Linked DNA regions of Homo sapiens: all the other regions are linked to region 2. Evidence: fine-mapped expression QTL. A gene starts in region 2. Each other region holds a variant in brackets. All regions are shown on one strand. Distances are between the middles of the regions. Region 1 has its middle 26 kb from the start of B4GALNT1. Region 2 holds the start of AVIL (advillin). Region 3 has its middle 48 kb from the start of LINC02403.

The links. PIP is the estimated chance that this variant, and not a neighbour inherited with it, causes the effect.
Region 1: its variant is the best candidate, but not a certain one, in a credible set for the expression of AVIL in blood mononuclear cells (TOPMed, PIP 0.59).
Region 3: its variant is the best candidate, but not a certain one, in a credible set for the expression of AVIL in whole blood (INTERVAL, PIP 0.67).

Annotation. Positions count from the first base shown.
Region 1 is chr12:57,657,943-57,660,704 of GRCh38, reverse strand. No RefSeq gene overlaps it. Among named protein-coding and RNA genes, the nearest start is that of B4GALNT1, 26 kb to the right of the region's middle. The variant C/T (reference allele first, on the strand shown) is at 1,366.
Region 2 is chr12:57,817,063-57,819,824 of GRCh38, reverse strand. AVIL (advillin) reads left to right here and starts at 1,091. Exons shown (of 20, transcript NM_006576.4): 1 at 1,091-1,196.
Region 3 is chr12:58,134,610-58,137,371 of GRCh38, reverse strand. No RefSeq gene overlaps it. Among named protein-coding and RNA genes, the nearest start is that of LINC02403, 48 kb to the right of the region's middle. The variant G/AG (reference allele first, on the strand shown) is at 1,360.

The DNA of each region.
Region 1 (2,762 bases), 160 kb after region 2:
ATTTCTGGCTTTTGAAATTTACCAGAGGTAACCTCCCAAGTGCTCAGAGAAAGGAAAATTTTTTTGAGGCAGAGTCTCACTCTGTCACCAGGCTGCAGTGCAGTGGAGCGATCTTGGCTGCAACCTCTGCCTCCTGGGTTCAAGCGATTCTCCTGCCTCACCCTCCTGAGTAGCTGGGACTACTGCTGTGTGCCACCATGCCCAGCTAATTTTTGTATTTTTAGTAGAGATGAGGTTTCACCATGTTGGTCAGGATGGCCTCAAACTCCTGACCTCGTGATCCACCTGCCTTGGCCTCCCAAAGTGCTGGGATTACAGGCATGAGCCACCACACTAGGCCAGAGAAAGGAAAATTTAAGATAGTCCATGGAGAAGAGACTAGACAAAGTTATGCAGATATTAAACCAGAAATGACTTACTTCCTAAAGAGGGAATCAAACCTGGACTGCCAGCGTGAAATGCCAAAACACTAGCTATTGAGCTACAGAACAGGGTAGTCTCTGCTGCCCTTCCCAGAAGAAGTCTAGAGTAGTTAATTTTGAGCTTGCAAAGCCTTTTATCTACTCAAGATAATTTTTAGAGCAACCTATGACATAAACCCTAAAATTCCTGTTCCCTGGAAGGCAGAGACCAAGAGAAAGTACTGCCACATGGTTATAAGGTCAAGCACCCAAGGACATAAAACAAGATGGAGACCCCATCCAGTAGTTTGTTTGTTTGTTTCAGGGACAGGCAGGAAAGTTTGTTATCAACCAGCTTGCTGGGTCATCTTGGGCAGCGAGTTTATGGGGCCCTAAGCCCACGTTTTATCCTAAGGTACCCCTCAACACAGAAAAACAAGTTCATAGCACAAATACATCAGTATGAGACTGGCCTCAGAATTCTTTTTTGCATTAATCACAACTTTACAGAGGAGTAAACAGTGATTTTTACCATTCATTCAACTGTTCGCACAGAGAGAGAGAAACCAGAAATCTGACTGGTAAGAAATTCTTACCCTTGGCTGGGTGTGGTGGCTCATGCCTGTAATCTCAGCACTTTGGGAGGCCGAGGCGGGCAGATCATGAGGTCAGGAGTTCAAGACCAGCCTGGCCAACATAGTGAAACCCCGTCTCTGCTACGAATACAAAAATTAGCCAGGTGTGGTGGCACACACCTGTACTCCCAGCTACTCGGGGGGCTGAGGCAGGAGAATCGCTTGAACCTGGGAGGCAGAGGTTGCAGTGAGCTGAGATCATGCCACTGCCCTTGTAAAAGAGCGAGACTTTGACTCAAAAAAAAAAAAGAAAAAAATTCTTACCCTTTTGCCAGCATGCCAGGCTTCTGGGTTCCTTTTCCCTGAGTGGCCCCAGTGACCCAGCTTGC[C/T]GCATCATCACGCTGGGGGCCAAGCTGCATCATAAAGGAAAATTATCTTTTTTGGTTCTGACCAGAGTAAAATATGTGTAATAAAACATAGACATTGGCCACTCTTCTTATCACCCAATATCAAACTGATAAGCCTTAAATTTGCCCTCACATGGGCCCCTTCATCTTTAATCCAACCTCCGACTAGGAGTTTGGATTAAACTAGAGACACGTGGTCTCTGGGCAAGATGGTTGCCCTGAGTAACAGAAAAGATAAAAAAGGGAAAGGAGAGAGAGAGAGAGAGAGAAAGCATTGCCTGTGGCGGGGTGGGAAGGCAAAATGCTCAGGGAGTCTAGAGAAAGACCCACATTGAAAAGCTCAGGTGGCTGCAGCTGCTGTCATGAAGGGATTTTTTTTTCCAACAGTCCCATCAGCTCTCAAGTTTCCCCTTTTGGGGAAGGAAAACACTCCCCATGTCCCACGACCCTCTCTATGCCTAATCCTGTCACCCATAGTCATCAGCAAAGAGTGCAAGGCAGATTATTCCAAAGAGAATAGCAGTTGACATCCTGTAGTGCCAAATTTGTTCTTAGCCAAAAGGGACTTTACTGAGAGCCTTTTTTTTTTTTTTTTTTTTTTTGACAGAGTCTCACTCTGTTGCCAGGCTGGAGTGCAGTGGCCCAATCTCCACTGCGATCTCGGCTCATTGCAATCTCCAACTCCCTGGTTCAAGTGATTCTGCTGCCTCAGCCTCCTGAGTAGCTGGGATTATAGGCACACACCACAATGCCCAGCTAATTTTTGTATTTTTAGTAGAGACGGGGTTTCACCTTGTTGGCCAGGATGGTCTGGATCTCCTAACCTCATGATCTGCCCGCCTTGGCCTCCCGAAGTGCTGAGATTACAGGTATGAGCCACTGCGCCTGGTCAAGGGTCTTCATTTTTAAATGTACTTCAATGCATTGCTGTTCATTCAGAACATTCCACTGTAAGTTATCTTTAGTAAGATTTTGCCATTTCTGTAAGACTTCGCTGCCTCCCAGGCCTAAAGTATAAGCCAGAAGGAACTCAGTTTTCCAGAAATTAAGGATCCCATTTTTACCTAAAATATTGGCTTTACTCTCAGGTTCTCTTAACTTAGCCAATAATTTTTCCTACCTAAGCATGCAAGAAAAATGAAGCAAAAGGGTAGAACACAAAAATCCCTGTGAAGTTTCAAAAGCCAAATTTTATAATCCCTGAAATATTACTGCTTACTACCAGTTCCTTTCTGACCCATTCAGATGTAAGACACCTCTAATTGGATCCAAGCCAGTTCATTACTGGATCAAATCCATTCCTGGACCCAGTCCAGTTTCTGTTGCAACTCCAAACCTAGTTTGAACCAGATATTTGCTCAAAGGAACTTGGAGAGCTC
Region 2 (2,762 bases):
CCCCGGGCTGAGTGGGGTGTTGCACCCACCGGGAGGCCAGCTGCAGATGCCACACAGGGCTTCCGCTCAAGGTTACACAAGTTCTGCTGTGATCAACCCCATTGCAGTCAGGTGCTTAGCACGTGTATATGCTTGATGTCCTATTGACTTCTGGGCATGAACCAGAAGCCCTAAGGGAATGGATTATTATTTTTTTTTTTTTTTTTGAAATGGAGTCTTGCTCTGTTGCCCAGGCTAGAGGCAGTGGCATGATCTCAGCTCACTGCAACCTCCACCTCCCAGGTTCAAGCGATTCTCCTGCCTCAGTCTCCTGAGTAGCTGGGATTACAGGCGCCTGCCAGCACGCCCGGCTCATTTTTGTATTTTTAGTAGAGATGGGGTTTCACCATCTTGGCCAGGCTGTTTTCAAACTCCTCACATTGTGATCCACCCACCTCAGCCTCCCAAAGTGCTGGGATTACAGGCGTGAGCCACCACCACACCCAGCCCTGGGAATGGAGTCTTGATTCTTCTCTGCCCCTCACTGATTCTTCCAAACTGGAAACCCTGAAGCTGAGAGCCCAGCATGGTTCCTGGCAAACAGCAGGCACTCAAATATTGATTGGTTTACTGTATGACTAGTAGAGACCCCAACGAGCAAAACTGTGGCCTAATAAAATTCTGGCTCCTCTCCCAGACTTCCCCTCCCTTTGAGAAATGCCAGAAGCTTCTTAGGGAGGCTCTTGCCAACCTAGACATCACAGGCACTCATGGGGCAGCTCCAGCCTCTTCCTCCTGTCATCACCATAATGCATCCATATCTACAATATGGCAAATTTCATATCCTTCCAACCTCTTTCCTGCATTATTGATGGGCTGTGTGCACTTTTTAAAAAATCAATTAGATCAGGGCGTGGAGCTGGAGTTCAAAGAAGCCTTTAAAAGTCTGCTCTTCTGTTTTGCTGTTTTGAATAGGCACAGATAAAGCTTTCCCTCTGGTTTGAATAAGCCAAGCTCAGTGCTAGGTTGGCTCTGATTGGCCAGGACTAGGAAAATGCGGTTAAGATGCAAACACAAGCAAATATAACCCAGTATCTCTGCGGCCATTACTAAGCTAAGGCAGCAGGACCTGGAGCCTCCTGCTTTGGAGTGGTTCTTCAATACTGCTGCTGCTTACGCGCCGGGAAACTGGGAAGGCTGGTGAGCGAGAAGGCAAGGTAAGGTCTCTGATTTACGGGGGCATGCCAGTTAATCCTCCTGAATGAGGAAGAAATGAAAGGAAGAGGAGCTTGAGAGTCCCTTGGCTTTGTCTTCTGAGATGAGGCTTTTAAAATGAACCAGGAGTCTGGCTGGCCAGTTTTGCAAACTTCTTGTTCAGAAGAACCCCTTAGAGGCAGCTGAACATATAGGGCACATTTTCAAAAGCTGGGAAAGACAGACCCCTTTCACCTATCCCTAGAGAAAGATGGTATGGAGCAAGGCAGGAGGAGTTAAAACCAGCTTCCTGGCCCAGAGAGGTGGCTTACACCTGTAATCCCAACACTTTGGGAAGCCAGGGCATGAGGATTGTTTGAGCCCAGGAGTTTGTAACTTGTGACCATCCTGGGCAACATAGTGAGACCCTGTCTCTACAAAAAAAAAAAAAAAAAAAAAAAAAAAAAAAGCCAAGCATGGTGGTGCACACCTGTGGTCTCAGCTTCTCAGGAGGCTGAGGCAGAAGGATCACTTGAGCCCAGGAGGTGGCGGTTGCAGTGAGCCGTGATTGTACCACTGCACTCCAGCCTGGGTGACAGAGCAAGACCCTGTCTCAAAAACAACAACAACAAAAAACAGCTTCCTCTGCTCAGGGTCCGTCCAAAAGGGCATCTCTGAGAATTACAGGCCACTGGCTTTTAACCTGACATTTCAAAACTGTGCCCCACACCCAAGGGGTTTCTGCAGTCCTCTCAAAGGATACTGAATTAGGATTTAGGGAGAAGGAGAGACCCAGCTTTGGGAGATTTGATGTCAGAACTGTGTTTTCTGTGTGTTCCAGTGTGACAGGAAGTCCCTTCCTGGAGCTTATCCTCTCGCATTCGGGGTGCCTGGCCCAGGGAGCTCCTTGATTCCTAAATTCCTGCTGGGAAACGGGACAGGTTTCAGCCTCTGAGGCTCACAGTCCTAATTGCTGCCGGCTGGTTTGGCTTTTACCAGGGTGACAGTTCTCTGTCTCCAAGGAATGAATTCAGTGGCCCTTGTCCCCTTCCCCTAGTTGGCTCATGGCTTTTGCCTTTAATGACTGCTACGTAGGGTCTGAAGAAAACCCAAACACCATATTTCCTGGCAATTCTGAGCAGCACAGGGTGGGGCAGCACAAGTTATCAAATTAAATTCTCAAACACTGGCTGCTCCGCACCATTGCCTTGCTTTAGTCCTGCTACAGCAGTAGACAAAGCGAGTCTGCTTTGAGCTTTATGGTTTTTTGCCAAAGTCCATACTAGATGGCGCATGCTCTCCAAACTTGGCTTTGTCCATCAAGGTTCAAGAAAACAATGGTCAGACATGTTCCTCTTAACAAACAGTATGTCCCCAAACAGCAAAAATGCATACAGTCCTTTCTGGGTGAATTTTTAAATCTTACATAAATCCATCAACCCCATCCTTTTTCCTTTGCCTCTTGGGAGAAATTAATCTAGCTTTACATTAATTATGCATGTTATCAGATTTCAAGCTCCTTGAGAGCAGGTATTTTAATTCTATAAAGCCTCTACGTGGCCTTGGACATGGGTAGGTGCTTAATTACC
Region 3 (2,762 bases), 320 kb before region 2:
CAAAACAGACATATAGACTAATGCAACAGAATGGAGACCTCAGAAATAAGACCACACATCTGCAAGCATCTGATCTTCAACAAACCTGACAAAAACAAGCAATGGGGAAAGGATTGCCTGTGTAATAAATGATGCTGGGAAAATTGGCTAGCCATATGCAGAAAACTGAAACTGGATCCCTTCCTTATACCTTATACAAAAATTAACTCAATATGGATTAAAGACTTAAATGTAAAACCCAAAACCATAAAAACTCTAGAAGAAAACCTAGGTAATACCATTCAGGACATAGGCATGGGCAAAGATTTTATGATGAGATCACCAAAAGTAATTACAACAAAAGCTAAAATTGCCAAAGGGATCCAATTAAACTAAAGAGCTTCTCCACAGCAAAAGAAACTATCATCAGAGTGGACAGGCAACCTACAGAATGGGAGAAAATTTTTGCAATCTACCCATCTGACAAAGGGCTAATACTCAGAATCTACAAGGAACTTAAACAATTTTACAAGAAAAAAAAACCCCATCAAAAAGTGGCCAAAGGATATGAACAGACACTTCTTAAAAGAAGACATTTGAGAAAAGGCTCAATATCACAGATCATTAGAGAAATGAAAACCAAAACCACAATGAGATACCATCTCATGCCAGTCACAATGAGGATCATTATGATCATTAAAAAGTCAAGAAACAACAGATGCTGGCGAGGCTGTGCAGAAATAGGAACGCTTTTACACTGTTGGTGGGAATGTAAATGAGTTCAACCATTGTGGAAGACAGTGTGGTGATTCCTCAAGGATCTAGAACCAGAAATACCATTTGACCCAGCAATACCATTACTGGGTGTATACCCAAAGGAATATAAATCATTCAGTTATAAAGATACATGCACACATACGTTTACTGCAGCACTATTCACAATAGCAAAGACATGGAACCAACCCAAATGCCCATCAATCACAGACTGGATAAAGAAAATGTGGTACATATGGAATACTATGTAGCCATAAAAAGAAATGAAATCATGTCCTTTGCAGGGACATGGATGAAGCTGGAAGCCATCATCCTCAGCAAACTAACACAGGAACAGAAAACTAAACACCACTTGTTCTCACTCATAAGTGGGAGTTGAACACTGAGAACACATGGACACAGGGAGGGGAACAACACACACCAGGGCCTATTGAGGGGGCAGTGGAAGGGAGAGAATCATGACAATAGCTAATGCATGTGGGGCTTAAGACCTAGGTGACAGGTTGAGTAGGTGCAGCAAACCACCATGGCACACGTATACCTATGTAACAAACCTGCACATTCTGCAGAGTATCCCGGAACTTAAAGTAAAGAAAAAAAAAAAAA[G/AG]AAAAGAAAAAGCTGTTTCCAGGTCTGGGGCATGAAACATACAAGATGAGCTTGGAGCATTTTGTGCTCCAGAAAGTAAGGAAGCTATCAAAGTTTAATGAGACTCTTCAAAAGTGTTTGAAAGCAACTTAAAGGGGCTTCAACTGGCCAGAGATGGAACAATTTGAGCATCAAAATGAATAATGATTGTGATTGGTTGGAATACACTGACTATATAAAAATCCATGATGAATCTTTTTTTAAAAGACAAAAGAAAATCTCTTTAAAGAGAATGAATTTAGAATTCATCTTGCCTTTCTTATTTAAAAAAAAGTATTTCAGAACACCAAATAGTTCTAGTTTAGGTAGAAAAAAACTCTGTAGAAGAATTTCAACTAATAAATGTAGCAAGAATTACTGCATTAAAAAATCACCGTTTTGCAATCCCTAATGAAATAATTGCTTAAGCAACCTTTAATAGTTGCTAAAAACAATTAGATGAAAGGATAACAATAACTGTACCAAAGTGACAAACCACTGATTTGACATAAGCATAAGTAAGTGGTGGCAGTGTGGGGTGGGGGGCTGCAACTTTATTACAGAAGTACGAGATGATCACTCTTAGCATCCCTAAAACTAGAAAGCAGCATGTGCTTCTGATAGGTTGTAATATGGTGTACCCAGCTCTAGCTATGAAGTATCCTTGTTGAAAATGTTGAATCTGAACTTAATCAAGACTCTAGCTCTAACTTCCAATTCATGGGAAATACAAGGGAAAGAAGGATAGGTTAAATGACATCATTTGGAAGCAACCAAACATATCCCAAATGAGAAGTATTCTACACGACAAATGACCCAGTCTTCAACATGTTGATGGCATGTGTTAAAAAGGAGTGGTGGCTGTAAGAGTACCTTTATAAATCAAAAGGAGTCAAGAGACATGGCAATCAAATGTGTGTACCTTATTTGCACTCTGATTAAAACAAACTAACTGTTAAAAAAAAAAAAAGGACACTTTGGAGAAATTCCAAGTATGGGCTGGGTGTTAAATAATATTATAGAAATATTGCTAATACTGTTGGGTTCTACAGTAGTATAGTGATTATGAAGAAAATGTCCTTATTTTTAAAGATGTGTAAATGTATTGAACTATTTAAGCACAAAAAGTATCAGATTTTCCTGGATATGCTTTAAAGTTCTTCAACCAAAAAATAAAAATAAAAACAAGTATGATGACATGTTAATAGGTATTTAAGATGAGCGTGTGGAGCTTCATTATACTATTTTCAACTTCTATTTTCCCATGATAAAAAATGTTCTTCAAATATGAGAAAAACAAAGCCCCTTACCTCCTGGAGAGTATCTCATGATAGCTACAATTATTTTTGGTATAGTGAAATAACTGTTAGTCTTCAGACTCCCTA